Homo sapiens: one gene and its partners. The protein of the gene in region 1 purifies or fractionates together with the protein of each later gene. This does not show direct contact. Each region holds a gene or a part of one and is shown in the gene's direction. Other genes may lie near its edges.

Region 1 (3,605 bases):
AAAATGAGAATAAAATTTAAGCAAAAATGACAATATCATGCTTATGCTAACATTTTAATTGTGGGATCAAGGAGGCCTGAGTTCAATCAGAGAATTCAGAGACTCTTTCTGCAGCATTCCTCATAAATTCATCGAACTATTGCCAATCACCTGCATAGACAATGCTTAAAACTGTGTATTCTAGAGTGTTTATCAATAGTAAGCCCAAATCCAACAAAAGTTACTGATCCTGTTTTCGTGTTTAGATAATGACACAGTGCAAATCTATTCAGTCATTCACATAAATGCTCATCTAAACATTGTGGGAAAGTAAATAACAAAAAATAATGTTCTGGGCTAAAAAATAAGTCTTTACACTTGGATAAGAAAAGATTTTGTGAGATATATGCTGTGGAGGTGATGATCAGTGCAAGAGTGGAAAGTTTAAGAGGTGAATGACCACTGGTGTATTTGGCTGATGGTATGTCGAACCTTAGTATAGCCCGCCCTTAATTAAACCTTCCACTTTAAGATTAAACTTAATGTGGTTTTAAGACTTTGACATGTGTATCAGTTAGTGTTCATTGTTTCTGAAACATAACAGAGAAAAACTCTGAATAATACGACCAAGGAAAAGAAGAATTTATTTGAAGGATATGAGATAGCTCACTGAATCAAACAAAAACTGTGTACTACATTGACATGTGACATTCATCCCTGAAAGGCCTGAGCCAAATTTTTTTTAAAAAAAGACCAAAAGGATATATTAATATGTGACATGTTTATTTTTAAATTTTAGCCTTTATTAAAAAATTAACGTAATAAAAAAGAAACCTATGTATACGTGTGCACGCGTTTTTTTTTTCTTTTCTTTTTTTTTTTTTTCTGGAGACAGAGTCTGGCTCTGTCACCCAGGCTGGAGTGCAGTGTTGCGATCTCGGCTCACTGCAAGCTCCGCCTCCTGGGATCAAGCAATTCTCCTGCCTCAGCCTCCCGAGTAGCTGGGACTACAGGTACACGCCGCCACGCCGGGCTAATTTTTTGTATTTTTAGTAGAAATGGGGTTTCACCGTGTTGTCAATGCTGGTCTCGAACTCCTGAGCTCAGGCAATCCGCCCGCCTCGGCCTCCCAAAGTGCTGGGATTACAGGCGTGAGCTACCGCACCCGGCCTGCATATATTTTTTAAACATTTATTTTAGCGTTACCAAATTGTCTTGAAGCATTCATTTAAAAACACAAAAACTCACTGCAGCTGTCTGAACACTTTTCTACTTCACCAAAGAGTGCCGAACAAGTTAAAATGAATCTGTTTTTAAACACTTCTCCTAAACCATGAGCATTAACTTGATTTCCTCTGTCATAGGGATATGGGAGACAATATAACATCCATCAGAGAGTTCCTCCTACTGGGATTTCCCGTTGGCCCAAGGATTCAGATGCTCCTCTTTGGGCTCTTCTCCCTGTTCTACGTCTTCACCCTGCTGGGGAACGGGACCATACTGGGGCTCATCTCACTGGACTCCAGACTGCACGCCCCCATGTACTTCTTCCTCTCACACCTGGCGGTCGTCGACATCGCCTACGCCTGCAACACGGTGCCCCGGATGCTGGTGAACCTCCTGCATCCAGCCAAGCCCATCTCCTTTGCGGGCCGCATGATGCAGACCTTTCTGTTTTCCACTTTTGCTGTCACAGAATGTCTCCTCCTGGTGGTGATGTCCTATGATCTGTACGTGGCCATCTGCCACCCCCTCCGATATTTGGCCATCATGACCTGGAGAGTCTGCATCACCCTCGCGGTGACTTCCTGGACCACTGGAGTCCTTTTATCCTTGATTCATCTTGTGTTACTTCTACCTTTACCCTTCTGTAGGCCCCAGAAAATTTATCACTTTTTTTGTGAAATCTTGGCTGTTCTCAAACTTGCCTGTGCAGATACCCACATCAATGAGAACATGGTCTTGGCCGGAGCAATTTCTGGGCTGGTGGGACCCTTGTCCACAATTGTAGTTTCATATATGTGCATCCTCTGTGCTATCCTTCAGATCCAATCAAGGGAAGTTCAGAGGAAAGCCTTCCGCACCTGCTTCTCCCACCTCTGTGTGATTGGACTCGTTTATGGCACAGCCATTATCATGTATGTTGGACCCAGATATGGGAACCCCAAGGAGCAGAAGAAATATCTCCTGCTGTTTCACAGCCTCTTTAATCCCATGCTCAATCCCCTTATCTGTAGTCTTAGGAACTCAGAAGTGAAGAATACTTTGAAGAGAGTGCTGGGAGTAGAAAGGGCTTTATGAAAAGGATTATGGCATTGTGACTGACAGTGACCTAGGAAGTTACATCATTGAGCGGTTCTTAACCCATCTCTGCACTGGTGGGACCTCTGCCCTCAATGGACATGAGAATTATCTGAGACATTTATTTAAAATGGAGCTATCTCCTGCCCTACCTTTAAATGACTGATTTCAGCAGATGTGGGATGAAATTCTAGAAATTGATCTCTTCAAGTTGTGCTGCAGCCACTCCACACCAGGACAATACCCCTTACAATATCCTCATTAGCTTTTGATCCAGTCCCATACCTCCCATAATGTTTTCCTCAAAACACTGGTCCCTTCAGAGGACTTTAAAAATAAGTTCTATAGTCAAATAAGTTTGAGACTTACTTCACATCAGATGCCTCTGTCTAGGGATCACAATTCATATTAGCATAGTGAATGCTGTAAATATTTCTCTAGGAAAGAATAATTCTATACCAGCTTTAAGCCAGTGTTTTCTAAACTTATGTGAGCACATAAAATTTCCTTTGTAATACTTAGTAACAGTTTCCTGGAACAGGAGATCTTGATATTAATTGACTCATTGTGAATACTTCCTACAGCCCCCTTCTAGGGCAGAATGATTTCTTTTTTCCTTGCAAAGTGAGCCTCTAAAGAGATGTAGTTCTGAGCATTATGCCTCGATCAGTCTGTAAAAATCCGGGTTCTGTTTGGATACAGACCGTGAGGGACCCTGTCTCTACTGTTCAATGGTAGATCATCTAAAGAAAATAAATGCAATCCTGTCCTTCATCATGGATCGGCATTCCTGCTATAGAAGCTTCAGGAGATGACCTCATTCAACCTCACAATCTTCTAAATTTGAGATTTTTAAGAAATATGATTCAGTATACATCTTCCTGTGTTTGCCGCTGAATGAAATCAATCTAATTTTTCTAATTCAGGGTTTTCAAGATAAACCCAGATTTCTCAAGAAAGAAAAATCTAGAAAGATTTCAAAATCCACCACCTACACACTTAAAAGTTGTAGCAGCTTCTTATGCCATGGGAAACATGTCATTTTGAGATGATGTTTTTTCTAGGTTTAAGTTTGGTCTTAAACATTTATATTTAATTTCTCATTGTCTTAGTTCAAAGAATTTACTTTTATATTTTAAAATAACTTTTTACACAATAACTCAGTGTCATATCATGTTAGATATAAAACTATGTCCTAAAACTATTTTATCCTTTTTTTTTTTTTTTTTTTTTGAGACAGTCTTGCTCTATAGCCCAGGCTGGAGTGCAGTGGTGCAATCTCGGCTCACCGCAACCTCTGCCTCCTGGGTTGAAACAATTCTCCT
Region 2 (4,281 bases), on another chromosome or scaffold:
ATGAGAAAAAAAGGTGTTTTGCTTAAAAAATAAGTGAGTTGCTCACCATACTTCTGGATCTCATCTAGAATTGGACTCACAGTTTGTGAACAGCCCAGGTATAGCCAATGTCTTAGCTTTGGAACGCTTGCCACTTTCCAGCTACAGCTGAACCTTATATCCTGGTTTGGTTCCTGATGACTTTCAAATTCTCCTGACCCAAACGCAAGCTCAGAAGCACAAGCACATTGTTGGTGGCAGTACAGACTGAAACACCCTCTTTGGATGGCAGTTCCTCTCACAGGACTTTATTCTCCAGGTATGCACAGGCACACACAGGTGCCCAAAGGATAAACACACAGATCTATTGTAGCATATTTGTATTACTGAGAGATTAGAAACATCCTAAAATGTTAACCAAATCGCTTGGATGAAAAGTTTTGCTCTGCTTATTAGGTTTGGCGTACAATATGGAGGTGACATCTGTTACTTCCAGTGTATTATAGATACTTTAGCTCCAAAAATGATACCTGTACCTAGATGGGCACCAAAAGGGAATGGTTAACAAATATTGCATATACAGGGGTATGGGGCAGCTCCGGGGCTGGGGATGGCGGCGGCCAGGTTTGCAGCGGCTCCAGGATGAGCGGGTGGATCCCGGGAAGCGTGGTGAAATGGGCTGGCTCCCGAGCCAGCCGGGAGGACGCTTACTACAGCTGCTCAGAAGCACCACTGGAAGCTCAGATGTAGGTGCCCCAGCCAGAAGCAGAGAGGGGTTCAGAGAAGCTACAGAGAAGCCCCTCCTGATGCCCCAGGGAGCAAGCCAACTCCTTCCAGGCTCCAGGAACACCACAAAGCAATATGAAACCTGTTCATGAGAGGAACCAGGAATGCCTTCCACCAAAGAAACGAGACCTCCCCATGACCAGCTGCTCCACTAACCACACATCCTCCAGTGATGCCTCTGAATGGTCCCGAGGGGTTGTGGTGGCCGGGCAGAGCCAGGCAGGAGCCAGAGTCAGCCTGGGGGGTGATGGAGCTGAGGCCATCACCGGTCTGACAGTGGACCAGTATGGCATGCTGTATAAGGTGGCTGTGCCGCCTGCCACCTTCTCACCAACTGGCCTCCCATCTGTGGTGAATATGAGCCCCTTGCCCCCGGAAAAAAAAAATAATATTGCATATGCAGTTGATTAAATGGCATACTCCATGGCTATTAGGAGTGATGAAAATGGGCTGGGTGCGGTGGCTCATGCCTGTAATCCCAGCACTTTGGTAGGCCAAGGTGGGCAGATCACCTGAGGTCGGGAGTTTGAGACCAGCCTAATCAACATGGAGCTGTGTTTACTGAGTGGGGCTTTCGCAGGCTGGAGCTAAGAATTTCCAGTATGCGTAACAGCCACAGCCCAAATATCTGCCAGTGAGTTGTGTAATTCCCCAGAGCAGGCCTGGGCAGTGTCTGGGTGGGGCCTGGGAGCCACAGGAGATGCCCAAAGCCAGGCAGAGCCCGGGGGCGAGGGGACGGCAGGCAGGTGTGGCGCTGCCCTGGGCGGGCTTGCACCCCCACACCCAAGTGAGCGGCCTGCTCACTCCTCAGCTGCAGGAGCCAGACGTGTGGAGTCCCAGCAGAGGCCAACCTGTGTCTCTTCATCTCCCTGGGAAAGGTGCCCCCGAGGTGAAAGAGATGGCCTGGTGGAAATCCTGGGTAAGTGGGAGCTGGCAGGAGATTTGGGTTCCTGCATGGTGTTGGGTGCTGGTCACCAGGGAGTCCTGAGAAATGTAAAGTCGCCCTTGGCTGGGAGTGGCTCAGTCTACATTTGGCTGCCTCCTGGGCCAAGCATGGAGGGTGGGAAGGGGCCGAGAAGAAACAGTCCCAGGCCTAGAGTGCCCACGGCAGGGATGGGACCTGGGCCGGGAGACAGGCTGATGAAGAAATCTAGAAATGCAAGGGGGAAGCTGAGGTTTGAGAAGAGTCCAGGGGAGGGACCCTTGCAGGGGTGGGGCCACTCAAAGGAGGGGGTATCATGGTTGAGCCTTGTGTGTAAATGTGTATGGGGTGCACACACGTGTGCATTTGGGGAGAATCAGGCATACTGCTCCTGGCAGAGGGAACTGTGTGCAGAGGGTCAGAGGGCAGGGAGCTTGGCTTCGAGGGAAGCTGCTCAGCACAGCTCAAGGGTCCTGGTACCGGAGGAGATGGACCTGGGGAAGCAGGCAGGGCCAGGTCCTGAAAGGCCTTGCCTGGCAGGCTGAGGAGTTAGGCTTTACCTTAAGAGAAGTGGGAAGGCACTGAAGGGCTTTGAGCATGAGAGTAACCTGAACCTGCTGTTGGGGACCCATCAATGCCTTCACCTCAGGGATCAATGATGTTCATTTGTCAAGACTGGAGAGGGAAGAGGGGAAGCAGGAGGACCTGGCCTGCTAGAGCCTGGAGGAACCCGGGGCTCAGGGCAGCCCATCCCCAGCAGAACTGATGGGTTCTCGGGAGCTTTCCATCTATGGTTGAGCCTGAGGCCATCGCTGTGCTAAGGAGTTGAATATCCAGAAGGGGACAGAGGTGACATCTCCCGGCTGCCGGCTCTGCACACCCTTTTCCTTTCCTCCCAGGCAGCCTCAGGATGTCAGGGCTGCACTTTCTGTTTTGCAGATGATGAAATGAAGGCTCAGAGACACTGAGTGACTTGCTAGGGTCCAATGGCCAGCAGGCTCCAGTCAGAGAGCAGTTGGGTCTCTCTGCCCAGCCCCAGGTTCTCTGTGAGCTTTTGTGGGATACCCAGGCTTGTCCAGCTTCAGGGAGTCTCTGGATCATAGATGTCGCAACCCAAGCAAGTGTCCTCAGGGTCAGACATGCTAGGTTCTGGACAGGTGGGACAAAGAGGAAGCCAGGCTGAGGTGGGGCAGCTGTCCTGGCCCCCAGGGAAGCAGCCTTCTTCCAGGACAAGGGGCCATGGAGGCCTGCAGCTTCAACCAGACTGCTGGGAACCTGCCTTTGAGGAGGTGGACATGGCAGGGAGAGCCCAGTGCTGGGTGGTTTCCAAAGTCAGTTGCTGGCCAAGGCAGTCTGGCACTGGGCCTTGCACCCAGTGCAGCAGGACAAAGGGCTGTCCATGTAGGGACCTGCCAAATTGACAGGATCACTGTGACACTCACTGAGTCCCTACTCTGTGGCCGGACCCTTCTCTAAGCACCTCACATTCAATATCTCCCTTGAACCTCACAAGGAGTCTATGAAGTAGACACCAGTATCCTTATCCACAGATGAGGAAACTGAGGCACAAGTAGGCTAGGCAGGTGCCCGAACTCACTAGTAAGTGTGAGAGTCTAGGTGAGAATCTGAACAGCCTGACTCCAGGGCCAAAACCATACCCTGGTCGTCCATACCCCATGTGAGAGCTGGCTAGGGGTAGCAAGTTCACAGGTAGACCCCACCTGCAACAGCTGAGCTGCTAGCGAAGACCCAGTGTCCTCTAGGCACAAAGCTGGGCCAGGAACGCGATGGGAGGAGATGAGGGAGCCACTGGAGAGAGATCTGTCTGCAGGCAGGGTCCATCTGCACCTCTCTTTTTGGTGTTGCCTTTTCCTCTGTGTCTCTCATAGAGACAAACCCATCTCCCAGGCCTCTGGGCAGCCACGTAGCAGGGGAAGGCCAAGGCGTGGCAGCTCCCCTGTGCCTGTCACAGAACAAGTTATATTAATAGATGTAGTCACAGGCTGGTCTGAGTCACCTTTTCAGTGAAAATGTGCCTGTCTGGACTAGCACGGCCCTGGGCAAGACCCTGCAGGAGCCTGAGGCTGACCCTTCCTTCTCAGCAGGAGGTCTGGAGCTCCAGGACTCCACACTGATAGCCAGGGCTCCGATTCCCAGAACACTTATTTTCTAAAACCTTAGAGTGGGAAGTGAGACAGAGGCTTCTCAATGCAGCAAAATCAGAACCAGCCAGGGAGCTGCTTACAAATGCTGCACCTGAGACCTACCGCACCCCTGCGGGACTGCATGCTCCTCAGGGATGCGGTTACACAGCCTGGCCACTCGCTGGTGCACCACAGCCCCCGAGTGCTGGGGCAGAGGGAAGCCGGCAGGCACTGAGAGCTGAGATGCCTCCCACATTCCCAGATGACCTGCGTTCCTGTGGGTGAAGCTTCCTTCAGTGGAACGTTCCAGGAACACTCATTGTCTGGGAAAGGTGGAGTCATCAGTAGGGCAGGGGAGGTAGATAGAGCTCAGCTTCTGAGTCAGGCTGGGGAGTCCCAACAGCATCACTTACTAGCTGTGTAAGGGAGTCCAGCTCCCTTTCTGTAAAG
Region 3 (3,500 bases), on another chromosome or scaffold:
TGTGATCTGTGATAGTTTCTTTTGTCAACCTTTTTCTTCTTCTCCTTCCTTGCTGCCTGATTGTCCCCAGCCATCCCAGCTCAGTAGCTTTTCCTGGGATAACTGTGATGAAGGGAAGGACCCTGCGGTGATCAGAAGCCTGACTCTGGAGCCTGACCCCATCATCGTTCCTGGAAATGTGACCCTCAGTGTCATGGGCAGCACCAGTGTCCCCCTGAGTTCTCCTCTGAAGGTGAGCCTGGGGGTGGGTGGAGAAGGGGAGGTGCGAGGGTCTGGCCAGCAGGGGTACTGGGGCATGTATGCTTGGGGAACTGTGAAGAATTTCAGAATCCTGGATTCCCAGAGAATAGTACAGGACATGTAGATTCAGACACTCTTTCACAGGTTCATGGAATCTCAGGATCATAAGATTGAAAGGAATCTCTGATGTCAGCGCCAGCAACTTCCTGGTGAGGGCAGGAGTGACGGATACCTTGCACCTGGCAGAAGCGTCCTGGCCTTCTCTGGGCCTGGTGGCCAACTGCTCATTATTGTCTGACAGCTCTGGTTGGCCAATTTGGTTTTGTTGTTAATTATAAAATTGATATACCAATTAGCCAGTAATATATAGTCACTTTAGAAAACACAAGTGGTCAAAAAATAAATAAAATAGGCCAGGTGTGGTGGCTCATGCCTGTAATCCCAACACTTTGGGAGGCTGAGGTGGGTGGATCTTTTGAGGTCAGGAGTTTGAGACCAGCCTGGCCAACATAGTGAAACCCCATCTCTACTAAAAGTACAAAAATTAGCTGGGCGTGGTGGCATGTGCCTGTAATCCTAGCTACTCAGGAGGCTGAGGTAGGAGAATTGCTGGAACCCAAGAGGCAGAGGTTGCAGAAAGCCAGGATCGCACCACTGCACTCCAGCCTGGGTGACAGAGTGAAACTCTGTCCCAAAATAAATAAATAAATAAAATAAATCACTTGAAATCTCACTACCTAGTGATAAGGGATAAGCACTTTTAACATCTTATAGGATATTCTTTGCAACTTTCCCCCATACAATTACATACATAACACACATATTTATTTTTAATGGATATGTATGATAATAGGCAGTGCTCATTGTAAATGTCCTCCAGTAATCTAAATCCTAGAGATAGTCAGTGTTTGCTCTTTATATATCCCATCAGAATTTTTATGTGTTTGTAAATATATACACACTTATACTCATGGGATTATATGATATGTGCTATTATACTTGCTATTTTTTTTGCCTCATACTATATGTCCATATCTTTCCAAGGATTAGGTGGCTCTACTTATTCAATTTTTTTTTATCCAATCATTATTTTATTATTTTAATGTATTGTAATTTTAGAGACAGTGTGTCACTCTGTTGCTCAGGCTGGAGTGCAGTAGTGTGATCATGGCTTACTGCAGCCTTGACCTCCTGGGCTTAAGGGATCCTCCCACCTCAGCCTCCTGAGTAGCTGGGACCACAGGTTCATGTCACCATGCTTACCTAATTTTTTTATTTTTTATGGAGACGGAGCCTCCCTGTGTTGCCCAGGCTGGTCTCAAACTCCTGAGTTCAAGCAATCCTCCTGCCTCAGACTCTCAAAATGTTGGGATTATAGGCGTGAGCCACCTTGCTCAGCCCACCCAATCATTTTTAATGGCAGAAATATTCTGATGTGGATCTTTCATAATTTATATAACAAGTCTATTGTTGAACATTTAGTTTGTTTCCAGGGTAGTTTTTATTTGTTTGTTTGTTTATTTGTTTGTTTTGAGACAGGTTCTTACTCTGTTGCCTAGGCTGGAGTGCAGTAGCGCAATCTCAGCTCCCTGCAACCTCCACTTCCCGGGTTCAAGCGATTCTCCTGTCTCAGCCTCCCAAAGTGCTGGGATTACAGGCACCTGCCATTGCGCCCCACTAATTTTTGTATTTTTAGTAGAGATGGGGTTTCACCATGTTGGCCAGGCTGGTCTTGAACTCCTGACCTCAGGCAATGTGCCTGCCTCGGCCTCCCAAAGTGCTGGGATTACAGACACCTGCCACCATGCCCAGCTACTTTTTGTATTTTTAGTAGAGATGGGGTTTCACCATGTTATCCAGGCTGGTCTTGAACTCCTGACCTCAGGCAATCCACCTGCCTCAGCCTCCCAAAGTGCTGGGATTATAGGCTTGAGCCACTGTACCTGGCCAGAGGGTTTTTTTTGTTTGTTTGTTTTTTGTTTTGCTGTAGTAACCACCTTTGTAGAAATTATTCTTATAGTACATCTTTTTATAATTTTCTGATTCTCTAGATACACACTTTTTAGGTCTTTTGATACATTTTGCCAAAGTGCCTCCCAATGTTTGAATAAACCTGCATCATTCCTAGTGAGCGTAGATGTCTATTCATAAGTTTATTTGCCTTTTGTATTTACTTTGGGAATAACCTGTTTGTTTCCATCCATTGACTATTTTAGGGGTGTATGTTTTTATATTTTCTTAGAAAACAATGAAGACTTTTCATATATCCATTGCAACACCATTTAATATGGTCCTTTCCTCTCTAGCTAAAATTGCTACCTTTATATGATGCTCCTCTATGCCCTTCAGTCTGTTCCTGATCCAGATCTATTCTAGTACCAGTTTTGTGTTAATTATTTAGAAGATTCCTGATTTGGATTCTGTGTTTCTATCATTATCCTTAGACCTGTCTTAATCACAGCTCCTACGTTATGGGCTTTCCTTGAGCAATACCTGAGTTAGAAAATCATGTGGAAAGTGCTTTGCACAGGGCCTGGCACCCAGGACATGCTCAGTACATTTTATATCTTGTGAACATTTCGATTAGTATCTGTCTTATCCTGCAGTCTCTTGACCCAGACACAAGTCCTGGATATGTGGCAGCTTTCAGCTCCCCTGCACCTCCTACCAAGCCTTTTCCTAGCAGAGTCATTGTGTTTCCATTACTGTTCCTCAAGTGATAGGGGGTCAAGCCCTGTACCCTTGGATCTGGGCCAAGGGATGGAATCATTCCCTATGTATGGACACTGGACTGTTTCTCTGCCAGGGTCACACACATTTATTTGTGTGCTCCCTCTGCTGATCTGGAGTGTGGGCTCTCCTGGTAGGCCGTCCGCCATGCTCCCTCTGCTGCCATCACCATGCAGCCACTGGTGTTTCCAGGGAGGGGGCTATGCAGCTGACTTGGAAACAAGAAGCTGGCAAACCCGCTCTTCTGCCCTCAGCCTGCTTTTCCTGGCTTCTTCACAAACCATTAAGATGGGTTTTACTCCCTATTCTCCTTTTCCATTGCTTTATTACCTTTCATAAATTTGGGCCTACATAATCTCCTCTGTCTTTACTGTCACTTGTGCTTAGGAAAAATTAGCCTCAGATCCCCTCTGCTCCTTCTTTTTCCCCAATTTCTTTTTTTTTTTTTTTTTTTTTGAGATGGAGTTTCACTCTGTTGCCTAGACTGGAGTGTAGTCGCGCGATCATGGCTCATTGCAACCTCTGCCTCC
Region 4 (3,500 bases), on another chromosome or scaffold:
AGAGGCGTGTAAGAGAGAGTGGTAGGCAGAGTAGGCAAGGACGTCAGAGGGCTGATGGGGCCATATCAGGTGGGGCCTTGAGGGCTGGCCATGGGGACTTTGCTTCTACCCTGAGTGAGATGGAGCTATGGATGTGAACTGATAGGGGTGTTCACGGGCTCCTTGGGAGGAGGGAAGGAGGGGCTGAGAGACCAGGGAGTAGGCTGCTGGGCTGGTCCAGGCAAGAGGTAACAGTGGACAGGACCAGGCGGAGTGAGAAGAGGTCAGATTTGGAATTATTGTGATCAGCAGACAGCTCTTACCTGGGGTGTGAGGGAAAGAGGAGCCCCAGAGGACTCCCCTGTTTTTGCAACTGGAAAGCAATGGTCAGCCATGGCAGGGTTTTGTCCTGGCATCAAGACAAGCGAGCCCTTGGCTGGGCACAATGGCTCATGCCTGTAATTCCAGCACTTTGGGAGGTGGAGGAGGGTGGATCACCTGAGGTCAGGAGTTTGAGACCAGCCTGGCCAACATGGCAAAACCCTGTCTGTACTAAAAATACAAAAATTAGTCAGGCCTGGTGGTGTGCACCTGTAATCCCAGCTACTGGGGAGGCTGAGGCAGGAGAATTGCTTGAACCCGGGAGGCAGAGGTTGCAGTGAGCCGAGATTGCGCCACTGCACTCAGCCTGGGTGACAAAGCGACACTCTGTCTCAAAAAAAAAAAAAAAAAGACAAGAGAGCCCAGGCTGATCCTGCCCTGTGTTCCCTCCAGCTTTCCTGCTCTGGGACCCTACCAAGGTGCCCCCACGACTGCAGGCTGTGACTGATGACCACATCCGGATGCACAAGGTGCTGCGGGAATCAGGCCTGAAGTACGTGGCTGTGATGCCGCCACACATAGGTAAGCAGGGCAGGGACCTGGTGGCACCAATGCCATCTGCCTGTTCCCTCCTGCCCTCTGGGGAGATCTGCAAGGCCTTCCCTGACCACCCTAAAATTGCAAACCTTCCTATGATATTGTGACATATATATTTGGCCTTTGTCCCTGTTTCCTGGCATACAACTCCTAAAATCCTTGGAATCTCCAAAATGGTAAATGTCTTTTTCTATGCTAATGAGTTCACTGAGAGCTGGCAGCCCCTAGGCAGCTTCAGGTCTGGTCACCAGAAAGACTAAGGCTGGATTACAGGGTTGGGACTTTCACCTCTGGGGAGTGGTGAGGGATTGAAGGTTGAGGGGATTACCACTGGCTAATGGTTTAATCCATTATGTCTATGGATTCTGGGGCTTCAGCCTCCTGAGTAGCTGGGATTACAGGCCTGCATCACCATGCCCCGCCATGGCTTACATTTCTAGTATGGGAGATAGAGATTAGATAGATAGATAGATAGATAGATAGATAGATAGATAGATAGATAGATACATAGGCCAGGCATGGTGGTTCACACCTGTAATCTCATCACTTTGGGAAGCCAAGACGGGAGGATTTCTTCAGCCCAGGAGTTTGAGACCAGCCTGGGCAACATAGACTTATCTCTACAAAAAAAAAAAAAAATTAGCTGGGCGTCGTGGCACACACCTGTGGTCCCAGCTACTGGGAGGCGGGAGGATGGCTTGAGCCCAGGAGATCAAGGCTGCAATAAACTGTTGCCCAGGCTGCTGTACTCCAGCCTGGGTAATAGAGTGAGACCCTGTCTAAAAAAAAAAAGAAAAAGACAAGAAAAGATAGATATTAATGGCCGGGTGCGGTGGCTCACGCCTGTAATCCCAGCACTTTGAGAGGCCGAGGCGGGCAGATCACAAGGTCAGGAGATCGAGACCATCCTGGCTAACATGGTGAAACCCCATTCTCCTGCCCAGCCTCCCGAGTAGCTGGGACTACAGGCGCCCGCCACCACACCTGGCTAATTTTTTGTATTTTTTAATACAGACGGGGTTTCACAGTGTTAGCCAGGATGGTCTCAATCTCCTGACCTTGTGATCCGCCCGCCTCGGCCTCCCAAAGTGCTGGGATTACAGGCGTGAGCCACTGCGCCTGGCTTTTTTTTTTTTTTTTTTTTTTTTTTTGAGACAGAGTCTTGCTCTGCCGCCAGGCTGGAGTACAGTGGTGCGATCTTGGCTCACTGCAACCTTTTGCCTCCTGGGTTCAAGTGATTCTCCTGCCTCAGCCCCCCGAATAGCTGGGACTACAGGCGCGTGCCACCACGCCCAGCTAATTTTTGTATTTTTAGTAGAGACGGGGTTTCACCATATTGGCCAAGATGGTCTCGATCTCTTGACCTCGTGATCTGCCCACCTTGGCCTCCCAAAGTGCTGGGATTACAGGCGTGAGCCACCACGCCCAGCCAAGTGTGTGAAAACTTCCACACCTCCCGATTTGAAAGCATTAAAGGTTTATGAATACACATAAGCCCTTTGTTTAGGTTCAATGCTTAGCATTTTATCCTGTTGTCTCTCCCTCTCTCCTCCTCTCTCTCTCTCCATGAATATATAGTTAGATTTTGCTGAATATATTGTGAAAACATATATGCATATGTATATTTGGCTTAATCATTTGAGAGGAATTGCAACATTGTCGCACTTAACTCCTAAATACCTAGACAGCCATCTCCTAAAAGAAAGATATTTGCACACAAAACATGCTCACACCTAAGGAAAGTGACATTTACTCTGTCATATCATTTAGTATCCACTCCGTAGTAAAATTTCCCCAACTGTCAGGCCAGCGTGGTGGCTCACATCTGTAATCCCAGCACTTTGGGAGGCTGAGGCGGGTGGATCTCTTGAGGTCAGGAGTTCAAAACCAGCCTGGCCAACGTGGTGAGACCCCGTCTCTACTAAAAATACAAAAATTAGCCAGGTGTGGTGGCGGACACCTGTAATCCCAGATACTCGGGAGGCTGAGGCACAAGAATTGCTTGAACCTGGGAGGTGGAGGTTGCAGTGAGCCAAGATTGCACCACTGTACTCCAGCCTGGGTGACAGAGCAAGACTCTATCCAAAAAAGAAAAAAAAAAATTCAACCCACTCTGCCCTTTTTCTTTAAGTTTCTCATAACATTAACCAGGCCAGGTGACTTTAAAGGCCCACATTCTGGATTTTTCTAGCTGTTTTGTCACAGATTCAGATTAAACATGTTGGGCAGGAATGCCACATGGGTGAAGGTGTGTGTTCCTTTTTTTTTTTTGAGACAGGGTCTCCCTCTGTAGCCCAGGCTGGAGCGCAATGGCACAATCTTGGCTCACTGCAACCTCCGCCTTCTGGGCTCAAGTGATTCTCCTGCCCAAGTAGCTGGGACTACAGGCATAAGCCACCACACTCAGCGAATTTTTGCATTTTTTGTAGAGATGTGGTTTTGCCATGTTGGCTGGTCTCAAACTCCTGAGCTCAAGTGATCCTCCCACCTTGGCCTCCCGAAGTGCTGAGATTACAGGCGTGAGCCACTGTGCCCAGCCAGGGCAGGAGCTTCCTGTCTGCTTTGTCCCAAGCAAACACACAGCCAAGGGTGTGTGTTCCATA
Region 5 (3,500 bases), on another chromosome or scaffold:
CCACCACACCTGGCTAATTTTTGTATTTTTTTTTTTCAGTAGAGACGGGGCTGCACCATATTGGCCAGGCTGGTCTTGAACTCCTGACCTTAAGTGATTCTCCTGCCTTGGCCTCTCAAAGTGCTGGGATTACAGGCGTGAGCTACAGCGCCTGGTCTCTCTTTTTTCTCCTTCCTCCTCCCTTCTCCTCCCCCTCAGAGCATCAGTTTCCTGAGCACCATCCTGCCTGGTTCTGAGACTCCAAACAGACCGAGGAGTAGTGCCCCAGCAGGGGCTGTCATGTAGTAGATGCTTAAGCCTCTTGCCCTCCCCTCATCCAGTGGAGGGAGGGGATATTCTGTGTACCCCATCAGAGAAGCCAGATAGGGAACTCCAGGATGGAAAAAAGGGTGGTGCTGTGAGTCAGCCTGGAGTGAGGCCTCTTGGCCCCAGGGTGCCCCCACCTGGAATTACACAGATCAGGCTCCAGTCACAGACACCACCCTGGATCAGGACCTCCTGGGGCCACACCTGGGAGTGGCTTGCTGTTCTGAGCTTGGAGCTGCACAGCCCTTGAGCCTGGAGGAGGGCCCAGCTCCTGTTGGAGCTTCAGTTTCCCCATCATCTTATGGGCCTTTGGACTAGGAAATTTTAATGAGAGAAAGTAGATAAACATGCTTTATAGAGAACATGATGATATATAGACATATAATTGTAGCTTGCTTTTATATCATCTTTTTAAAATGGAGGTGAAATTCATGTAACATATAATTAACCATTTACAAGTGAACAATCAGTGGTATTTAGTGTATTCACCATGTTGGGCAACCACCAGCATTTTCCAGTTTCAAAATTTTTAGTCACCTCATAAAAAAACTCTGTACCCATTGAGTAATCACTTCCCATTTCCCTCCTCCTCCCATCCGCTGGTAACCTCGAATCTGCTTTCTGTCTCTATGTATTTGCCTATTCTGGGTACATCATAGAAAGAGAACCACATAAAATGTGATCTTTTTGTGTCTGTTTTCTTTTACTCAGCATAATGTTTTTGAAGTTCATTCACGTTGTAGTAGGAATCAGTTTCATTCTTTTTTTTTTTTTTTTTTTTTTGAGACAGGGTCTTACCCTGTCACCCAGAGGCTGGAGTGCAGTGGTGTAGCCATAACTCATTACAGCCTTGAAATCCTGGGCTCGAGTGATTCTCCTCCTGCCTCAGCCTCCCGAGTAGCTGGAACTGCAGGCACGCACCACCATGCCCAGCTAATTTTTATTTTTATTTTTGTAGAGATGGGGTCTTGCTATGTTGTCCAGGTTGGTCATTAGGGCTGAATTCATTTCACTGTATGGATTTTTTTTTGTTTACCCATTCACCTTTTGGATGTTGTGAATCATGCTACTATGAACATATGTGTTCAAGTTTTGGGGTGGACATATGTTTTCATTTCTCTCTTGGGTAGATACCTAGGAGTAGAATTGCCAAGTCATATGGAATTCTGTACTTAACTTTTTAAGGAGCCACCTTGCTGTTTTCCACAGAGGGTGTGCATTAATTTTCTACTAACAGGAAACACAACTATTTATCTCACAAGTTCTTGATGCCAATAAATAATCATTTTAACCATAGTAATAAAAATAGCCAACAGTTGGTCAATTATTCATTTACCTACGCACGTATTTAATGAGCATCTACCATGTGCCAGGAACACAAGAGCTTGTTGAGTCTTATAGGGATGCCATGAGGCAAGATTGTTCTATTTTCTCCTTTGGCAGTGGTAACATGTCCAGGCTTACATATCTAGTTAGTGGCAGGGCTGGGATTTGAACTCAGACCTGGCTGGCCCAGAACCCAAGCTCTCAAACATAGTGATATGCAGCTTTCTGAGCATGAGTTTCTCCATGCTGGCACCATGTGGGGGTATTTCGTACACCGTCTCATCCATGGTAGGCATTACCATCTCTCCCTCTTTTTTTTTTTCTTTTTAAAAAACATTTTTGTAGAGACAGAGTCTTGCTGTGTTGCCCAGGCTGGTCTTGAACTTCTGGGCTCAAGTGATCCTCCTGCCTCTGCCTCCCAAAGTGCTAGGACTGCAGGTGTGAATCATTGCACCTGGCCTACCATCTCCTTTTTGCTGGAGGGGAAAACTGGTGAGGAGCGTGGACACAGACTTTCCTGGCATTGTGGTCAGAGTTGGAGTGGAAAAGGAACCTGAGGATGAGAGAACAATGGTTCAGCTGAGAAGGGGGTTTGGAGAAGGCTTCCTGGAGTAGGTGTCAGTGAAGCTGGGCCCCGAAGGATGCCTAGGAGCTTGCCAGAGAAGGAGTCCCAGATGGAAGGTCCTGCCAGTGCCTTGATGCAGATGTGTGAAAATTCCAGGGGAATTCAGGTGATTTAGGGTGGCTGGAGTGAAGGTGATATGTTGGGGGGAATAGGAAATGAGACTGACAGTTAAGCAGGAACTGGACAGCAAAGTGAATGAACTTGTACTTTATCCTGGGAGTGATAGGGAGCCACGGGAAGTATTTGAACAAGACAGCTATTGACCAGATCCTGGTGTCAGAAAGATCCCTGTGGAGCCTATCTTGGAGTCCAGAGTGCAGAGAGGAGAGGAGTGACTAGACTCCTGCTTTCCTCTTCAATGCTGCCTCCTCCAGGAAGCCTGCCCTGACTTCCAACAGCCCTTTTTCTGAGCCTTCCTTAGCACCTAGCACACTTTCTACCTTCTTGGTAATTGCATGGTGTGTCTCTGCTTCCCTTTCCTGCCCCACTCAGGAGCTCCTCCAGGGAGGGCATAGAGCTGAGCCATCTGTGGGTCCCCAGCATCACCCAGCTTGGGTTGGGCACAGAAAGGCAGCATAAGAGGTGTGATGAATGGGGGGATGAGTGGGCGGATGATTGTGTAGGCAATTGGCCAATTCCTAGGGATTGTGTCGGTGTAGGTGGCTGAGTCGCATTCAGGTAAAAGTGATATCACTCGAATTTCAGATACTTCCTTCCTGGGCCTCTGCCCATTCAGCCCCAAATCTGTTCAGTATATAGAAGGAGGATCCATCCATTCATCCATCCACTCATTCATTCATTCATCCATCCACCTTCCACCTATCCACTCATTCATCCATCCATCCACTCATCCATCCATCCACCATCCACCCATCCATCCATTCATCCATCCATCCATCCACCCACCCACCATCTATCCATCTGCTATTCATCCATCCACTTATTTATCCATCCATGTACTCATCTGTCCCTCTACTCATCCATCCACCCATTTATTCTTTCATTCATCCATCCTTGGATTGACTTATTTATTCATTTAATAAAAATTTATCTAGCACAACATATCAGTAATCAACACGAACCCTCCTGTTAAGGGGCTTGTAACTAAGTGGATACAATCCAGAGTGACTGCTGGGTCAGGGGTGGGGAGAAGCATTCAAGTTCTCATACAGGATGAGGGAAGAGTGTTTGGGGCAGAGAGAACAGCTGGTGGAAAGTCTCAGAGAAGAGAGAGCACGTGGTC
Region 6 (3,500 bases), on another chromosome or scaffold:
TTTATTTAAATATTTTATATATTTATTTATAAATATTATTATTTCCTTCTAGGCTTGTGAGTTCCTTGAGGGATAAGATGCTGTGTTGTTCATTTTATGTCTCCTTTGCCCTGTATTTTACTTTATTTTATTTTATATCGTTTTATTTCATTTTATTTTTAGAGACAGAGTCTCACTCTGTCACCCAGGCTGGAGTGCAATGGCACCATTATAGCTCACTGTAACCTCGAACAAGGTAACCTGTAACCCGGGCTCAAGTGATTCTCCCACCTCAGCCTCCCAAGTAGCTAGAACTACAGGCACATACCACCACGCCTGACTAATTTTTTTTCTTTTTTTGTAGAGACAGGGGTCTTACTCTGTTGCTCAGGCTGGTCTCAAACTCCTGGCCTCAAGTGATCCTCCCACCTCAGCCTCTCAAAGGGTTGTGATTACAAGTGTGAGTCACTGCACCTGGCCTCCTTCACCCTGTAATTGTCACAGACTAGATAAATGCATGAATAAATGTGTGAAGATGAATGAATGAATGGATTGATTTTGGTAGTATGTGAAATGCAGTTGGTTATACTTAAGTGAATAGAGAGGGAGAAGTATGATGGGGAAGGGATCTAAACATTAATTCATTGGTATGAAAATGAAACTCTTATCCCAAAGCTGATAGCTGAAATGCTGTCACCTAACACCTCGATTGTAGCTAGTACAGAGCGCCAGCTAGCCGGCAGACTTTATGTGAATCAGGAAAAAGTGTCCCTTCAGGGAAAACGAGTTAGTAAAAGACACACCTTCCTTTTATGTTATAGCCTGACCGAGTTATGTCTTGTGCACCTGCTCAACCATCCTTGAGGGCACTGAGCCGGTGGGGAGCAGAACTTGGTTCTTTCCCAGGCCCACTGATGATTTCTGTGTGGTTCATCTCACCCCCAGGCCTCTGGGCCCTGGTGAACAATGCTGGTGTGGGCCTGCCCAGTGGTCCCAACGAATGGCTGACCAAGGATGACTTTGTGAAGGTGATTAATGTGAACCTGGTGGGACTGATCGAAGTGACCCTTCACATGCTGCCCATGGTCAAGAGAGCCCGGGGCAGGGTTGTCAACATGTCCAGCTCTGGTGGTCGTGTGGCTGTCATTGGTGGTGGCTACTGCGTCTCCAAGTTTGGCGTTGAGGCCTTCTCTGACAGCATAAGGTAACTGGGCCCTGGTACTGAACAATTCTGGGTGAAAATCCCAGAGATTAGAGAGGGTTGGGAGTGACAGCATGTGGGCAGGGGAATTCCGCAGACAGGAAGCTAACACAATAGCAGAAGGAAGGTTAGACCTCAAGGTGCTTTCTCCAAGGACCAAGAGCAGGGATGAGGAGAAGAGGTAGGGTGGAAATACAAGGCATCAGGTGGGCCTTCCCTTGAGCGGCACCAGGGTGAGTGAAACCCTGTTTGGGCCTGTGAGAGGAGGGAGAGTCCCCCAAACAGACAGACAGGCCTGGAGGCACAGGTCCCCTCTGGGAGGTCCTTAGAGGAGCGTGCAGGCCTTGTGTATATCCACACCATTCACCGTGTGGGTGTTGAGTGAGGGGTTGCTAATGGGAGGGACCTGGTGGGAGGCAAGGCTTTGGCCTAGATTCTCTATTGACTTCTTCCCGCTGGTTGTGCCTAATGCAAATTGCCCAGAGACTGTTGGGCCAGTTTTGGAAAGGGCTGAGTCCCTAAGGAAGGGCTTATTTGCACAAAGGCAATGCCAGGGCCAAGTACAGGGGTGAGAGAAGCATCTCTAGGTTCCTGAAAGACCAGCCCATCCAGAGGTGACTCTCCGTGATGATTGTCATCTTGGGGCCCAGACTGACTGCAACTCTTCTTTCCCAGGCGTGAGCTCTACTACTTTGGGGTGAAAGTCTGCATCATTGAGCCAGGGAACTATCGGACAGCCATTCTCGGCAAGGAGAACCTGGAGTCACGCATGCGAAAGCTTTGGGAGAGGCTGCCTCAGGAGACCCGGGACAGCTACGGAGAGGATTATTTCCGCATCTGTAAGTTCCTGGGGCAGGAGAGGGGTCTCTGAGGGGGGCGAGTGGGTCTTGGGGTCATTAGCTGGCTTTCCGTTTACAGATGGTGAGACAAAATGCAGAGGAGTTCAGGACCCAAGGTCACATAGTGGCACAGCTGGGGTTTGAGAATAGAGAGCAAGTGGCAGAATCATCACTTCTGGAGCAGCCCGGGGAGTTAAGGGCAATTCAGCCCACTCCTGGCACCTGCCCCCACAGCATCATGATGCAGGGGAATCAGGTGAAAATGCACTGAGATAAATACAGCAAAGAGATCAAGGGCATGGCTGCTGGAGCCGGACTGCCTGGGTTCAAATCCTGGCTCTACTACTTACCAGCTAGGAGACTTTGGACCTATTACCTAGTTTTCCCATGCCTCAGTTTTCTTATTTACAAAATGGAGCTAAAGATAGTGCCTCCCTCATGGGGTTGTTATGAGGGTTAGTATGTGTGAAGTACTTTGCACATTCTGAGTGCTTGTTAATAAAGAAGAAAATGAGCACATGGGGATTTAAAAGGGAGGGTCTCTAGGCAACTCTCTTTCTTTCCCTGAGCTGAGGGTCTCCTGTGAATCATAGGTGTTTTTGGAGGGTAGAGGTGGGACACGGCAGCTGTTTACCCTGCTGCCCCAAAACTTTCTGCCACGAAAGTTGTCTGCTGGATGTCGTACGTCAACAGAGCACAAAGCCAAGTCAGCCATTTTTTTCACTTAATACATACACACTTTATTGCATTTTTGTTTTTTGTTTTTGTTTTGAATCAGTAATACAAAGCATGCAAGGCTGCCATGTCCCAAGCCTGTGTGGGGCTGGAGAGCTGGAGCGGACACAGCAGTATGCCTGCCCTTCACTGCCTGTAGCTTATGGCCCAGTAGGGGAGACAAACATAAATCAAAACACATGTGTTTATGGTAGATGTGGATAAGTGCTACAGAGGAGAAACAGGGTTGTGAAAGAAGAATGGAGCAGGAAGTTGCGGTCCCAATTCAGACTATGGTGAAGGGGAGAGCTTCTGAGTTGACTTTGAGGAGGAATAAGAGTTAGGTGTTGCTGGGAAGGGGAAAGAGGGGATGCGTAGGGACTTTTTTTCTGCAGGAAGGCTCTGAGGCAGAAAACTCCATTTGAGGAACTTTAAAGAAACCAGCAGGTGGGAAGCAATGGGAGGTAGCTGGGGTATACGGAATAAATTAGAGCATCAAAGCACACTGAGGATTAAGGGGTGAGGGAGAGGAAGCTATCAAGGGTGAGTGTTAGCTTTACAGCTTGAAGAACATGGTGAATGGAGGTGTCTTCATTCATTGATTTAGGGAAGTCTCAGGGAAAAATGTTTGGAGTACTCCTTAGATAAATTCATCTTTTAGTGCTAGACATGTTAGGATTCTGTGAGAAGAAAATGTCTAAGGATTTACACTAGTTGGGACTTACTCAGTGACAGAAGATCCAATGCAAATTATTTAAGCAGAAAAG
Region 7 (3,500 bases), on another chromosome or scaffold:
TGGGCTCATGATAAAAATCTCCACTTTTAGGCTGGGCACAGTGGCTCACGCCTGTAATCCCAACACTTTGGGAGGCCAAGGCGAGTGGATCACCTGAGGTCGGGAGTTCGAGACCAGCCTGGCCAACATGGCGAAACCCCGTCTCTACTAAAAATACAAAAATTAGCCAGGCGTGGTGGCAGGTGCTTGTAATCCCAGCTACTTGGGAGGGTGAGGCAGGAAAATCACTTGAACCTGGGAGGCAGAGGTTGCAGTGAGCCAAGATCATGCCATTGCACTCCAGCCTGGGCAACAAGAGCAGGACTCCATCTCAAAAAAAAAAAAAAAAAAACTCCACTTTTGTATATCTTTACATTTTCCACTGGATATAGCCTCGACTGTACTCACCAGGTTCTCCACACCCTAAGCCACATGCCAGATTTGTTTAGCAGATTCAGTGGAGCAGGTTCATTCATGGGGGCACCAAACCAAAAGTCCTTTTAAAAACAGTTACCTATGATTTAAAAGTGTGAAGTGATTGTAGTATGATGGGGAAACAGTGGGCCAACTATCATGAGAATTAGGAGATCTGGACAGCTACATGATCTCTTTGATCATATAGTTTTCTTACTTGCTCAGTGCAGCAGTAGTGCCAACCTGTCCTCAGACGGGGATGTAATAATTAAAAGAGGTAGCAGGGGAAAATTCTACAAACCATGGAGGGTTGTGCAAATGTAAGGAATTATTATTTTTTTTTATTTTTATTTATTTATTTTGAGACGGAGTCTCACTCTGTCACCAGGCTGAAGTGCAGTGGCACGATCTCGGCTTACTGCAACCTCTGCCTCCCAGGTTCAAGTGATTCTCCTGCCTCAGTCTCCCGAGTAGCTGGGACTACAGGCATGCGCCACCACACCCAGCTAATTTTTGTATTTTTAGTAGAGATGGGGTTTCACCATGTTGGCCAGGATAGTCTTGATCTCCTGACCTCATGATCCGCCTGCCTCAGCCTCCCAAAGTGCTGGGATTATAGGCATGAGCCACTGTGCCTGGCCAGGAATTGTTATTATCTTGGATGTCTTTCTATTACAATTACCACTACTACTGCAAAAATCCTAATTGCTAATAAAGTATTTTTAGGTTTTTAAAGGATTTCATAGAGTATGATTGCTGGACTGAGCACAGAGGTAATAATTGGTAGAGCAGCAGTTAAGAAGATTGCTCTACCACAGAATTAAAAGAATGTCTTCGCATAGTCCAAGAACTCCAGCTGAATTTTGAAACTCCAAAAGCTCAAGGAACACCAGCTTCACATTTGCCTGCGGGAGGGGTGTGTGCACACATTTTGATTTCCAGCCCTGGAAGTGGAGAATGGTTTATTAAGTGTTTCTCCAGGACATCCCTTCCAAAGGGTTGACAGCATGTTTGAGCAACTACCTTGGAAACACTTAAAACCTACTGAAATGTAGGGGAGTACAATTATTTCTGAACTATGGGCCAGAGTGAGAAAGTTTGCCCAAGTCTCATGATTATGTTCCAGTTCTCTGCTCTTCAAAACACTCTGCTAAGGTGACCACACTTGTTTTTCTCTCTCAGGCCATTCTGTCATTTAGTTGCATAACCTCAGTTCTATTCTTTCAATAATATACATAGTTCACAGTGCCTTCGGGGTAGTTTCCGTATCAAGGTTTTGGTTTCTTCTGATACAAAACACACACACACACACACACACACCCCTTCCAATCCTAGAGGAAAAGAGTATACTAAGTAGAGTTAATAAAGAAGCGTTAGATCCCAGACCATTCAGATTTAGCTGGTGGGACTGTGAGGAGTGTGATCATACAGAAATGAACCTCTCACAGGTGGTTAAGTATGCTGGAGTTGGAGGCACAGCCTGTGTTTGAATATCAGCTCTACCACTTCTTACATGCTGTGTGAGTTTAGACAGGTCACTTAATTAAGCTAAACTTCCTCATTTGTGAAATGGAAATAATAATAGTAACTGCTTTGTGGAACTGATGAGAAGATTACATCTATGAGAAGCACTTAGCACAGTTTCCAGGACAAAGTGAGTGTTCAAAAAATGTTAAGGAGTTACCGTTGTGGTTATAGGTTGGTGGGAAGCAATGTAAATTATTTTATTACAATGTCTCTCACCTGACTTCTCTTTGGCTAACTCAGTGGCTCTCAACTTGGGGTGATTTTCTGCCCCTATGGCAGAAAATGTGCCTTTTTCAGTTGTCACAGCTGGGGAATGTTACTGGCATCCGGTGGGTAAAGGCTAGGGATGCTGCTAGACATTCTACAATGCACAGGACAACCCCCACAACAAAGAATTATCTAGCCCAAAATGTCAACAATGCTGAGGTTGAGAAGCCCTAGAAACTAAAACAGTGTGGGGTTTGTAATTTATTGAAACCATGTAACAACTTTAGTTATTCAAAGACACATTTACCTGGGATATAAAAACTCTAAAATGTACTTCAATTGTGGAAAGAGGCATCAATGATTAACCATAATCATTTCTGATCATGACCAAGTCACCCCTGAGACTAGTAACTGCAGGTGCTCACAAAAAAATATGCAGCTGTCCTTCCTGCCTTCAGGGGATCATTCATGAAAGTAATTTCTCACCTGACCAAAATGATCGCTTAACATTTATTGCATCATTGCCCCTGTTTCTGTAGACTACTCTACCGAAGTTTTAATTTGTCACTAGTTTAAAGGGCCAAAAGATCTGTTTTCTTCAGATATTAGAGACACAAACCAAGCATCTCCCACTTTCTTGGAATTCCTTCTCAAAAATGACTAAAGTCTGAGACTGTTTTCTTATTTAATGTCTATTGAATTCTGTTTTACAGAATTTCAAAAGAGCAGGTTCTTAGCTTACTTTTCAATGGAACATTTTAGCCAGGTAGTATAAGTACAGGTGCGGGTAACCTCAGATAAATCAAGGTGTTATGCAGCTGTCTCTATATTAAAAATATTTGCTGACATCAGTGTAGACTTCATCTTGTAGTTCTTCAGTGTTTTCTTTCCTTATCTTTTGCTCATAAGATGGCTTTGTGTTTGGTTTGATATTATACTGAGAAAGCATATTAGAATCAAAGCACCAAGATTTCAAAAGTCCAGACTACTCTTCCCAAAGAGAAATGTGCAATCACAATAGCATGACATGGGTACAAATATAGAAGTATGTTATTAAAGTATTGAGAATTAGCTTTCCTAACCTCCCCACCTGCAATCTTTTACTCCTAATCTCCAAAAAATGAACAAATCATTGGCTCAAAATGGTCACAAATTGTATGTGGTGTTAAAAATCTATTATTTTTATTGTATATAAAATGTTGCCAGGTGTGGTGGCTCATGCCTGTAATCCCAGCACTTTGGGAGGCCAAGGCAGGTGGATCACTAGGTCAGGAGTTCAAGACCAGCCTGGCCAACATGGTGAAACCCCATCTCTACTAAAAATACAAAGATTAGCTGGGTGTGGTGGCGTGTGCCTGTAATCCCAGCTTCTC

What was found.
Region 2: the proteins of OR2A4 (region 1) and ANXA8 purify together in Homo sapiens (affinity purification with mass spectrometry; one large-scale study listed by BioGRID and IntAct). This does not show direct contact.
Region 3: the proteins of OR2A4 (region 1) and GM2A purify together in Homo sapiens (affinity purification with mass spectrometry; one large-scale study listed by BioGRID and IntAct). This does not show direct contact.
Region 4: the proteins of OR2A4 (region 1) and BLVRB purify together in Homo sapiens (affinity purification with mass spectrometry; one large-scale study listed by BioGRID and IntAct). This does not show direct contact.
Region 5: the proteins of OR2A4 (region 1) and CYP4F22 purify together in Homo sapiens (affinity purification with mass spectrometry; one large-scale study listed by BioGRID and IntAct). This does not show direct contact.
Region 6: the proteins of OR2A4 (region 1) and SDR9C7 purify together in Homo sapiens (affinity purification with mass spectrometry; one large-scale study listed by BioGRID and IntAct). This does not show direct contact.
Region 7: the proteins of OR2A4 (region 1) and ACP3 purify together in Homo sapiens (affinity purification with mass spectrometry; one large-scale study listed by BioGRID and IntAct). This does not show direct contact.

Annotation. Positions count from the first base shown.
Region 1 is NC_000006.12:131,699,144-131,702,748, reverse strand, and holds OR2A4 (olfactory receptor 2A4), read left to right. Parts: upstream 1-1,347; coding exon 1,348-2,280; 3' UTR 2,281-3,105; downstream 3,106-3,605. UniProt on the Homo sapiens protein: Odorant receptor.
Region 2 is NC_000010.11:47,481,316-47,485,596, reverse strand, and holds the start of ANXA8 (annexin A8), read left to right. Parts: upstream 1-1,481; 5' UTR 1,482-1,576; coding exon of another isoform or gene 1,577-1,663; coding exon 1,664-1,684; intron 1,685-4,281. UniProt on the Homo sapiens protein: This protein is an anticoagulant protein that acts as an indirect inhibitor of the thromboplastin-specific complex, which is involved in the blood coagulation cascade.
Region 3 is NC_000005.10:151,259,685-151,263,184, forward strand, and holds part of GM2A (ganglioside GM2 activator isoform 1 precursor), read left to right. Parts: intron 1-70; coding exon 71-232; intron 233-3,500.
Region 4 is NC_000019.10:40,448,746-40,452,245, reverse strand, and holds part of BLVRB (flavin reductase (NADPH)), read left to right. Parts: intron 1-753; coding exon 754-882; intron 883-3,500. UniProt on the Homo sapiens protein: Enzyme that can both act as a NAD(P)H-dependent reductase and a S-nitroso-CoA-dependent nitrosyltransferase. Promotes fetal heme degradation during development.
Region 5 is NC_000019.10:15,532,525-15,536,024, forward strand, and holds part of CYP4F22 (ultra-long-chain fatty acid omega-hydroxylase), read left to right. Parts: intron 1-3,500. UniProt on the Homo sapiens protein: A cytochrome P450 monooxygenase involved in epidermal ceramide biosynthesis. Hydroxylates the terminal carbon (omega-hydroxylation) of ultra-long-chain fatty acyls (C28-C36) prior to ceramide synthesis.
Region 6 is NC_000012.12:56,927,909-56,931,408, reverse strand, and holds part of SDR9C7 (short-chain dehydrogenase/reductase family 9C member 7), read left to right. Parts: intron 1-924; coding exon 925-1,183; intron 1,184-1,855; coding exon 1,856-2,019; intron 2,020-3,500. UniProt on the Homo sapiens protein: Plays a crucial role in the formation of the epidermal permeability barrier.
Region 7 is NC_000003.12:132,323,907-132,327,406, forward strand, and holds part of ACP3 (prostatic acid phosphatase isoform PAP precursor), read left to right. Parts: intron 1-3,500. UniProt on the Homo sapiens protein: A non-specific tyrosine phosphatase that dephosphorylates a diverse number of substrates under acidic conditions (pH 4-6) including alkyl, aryl, and acyl orthophosphate monoesters and phosphorylated proteins.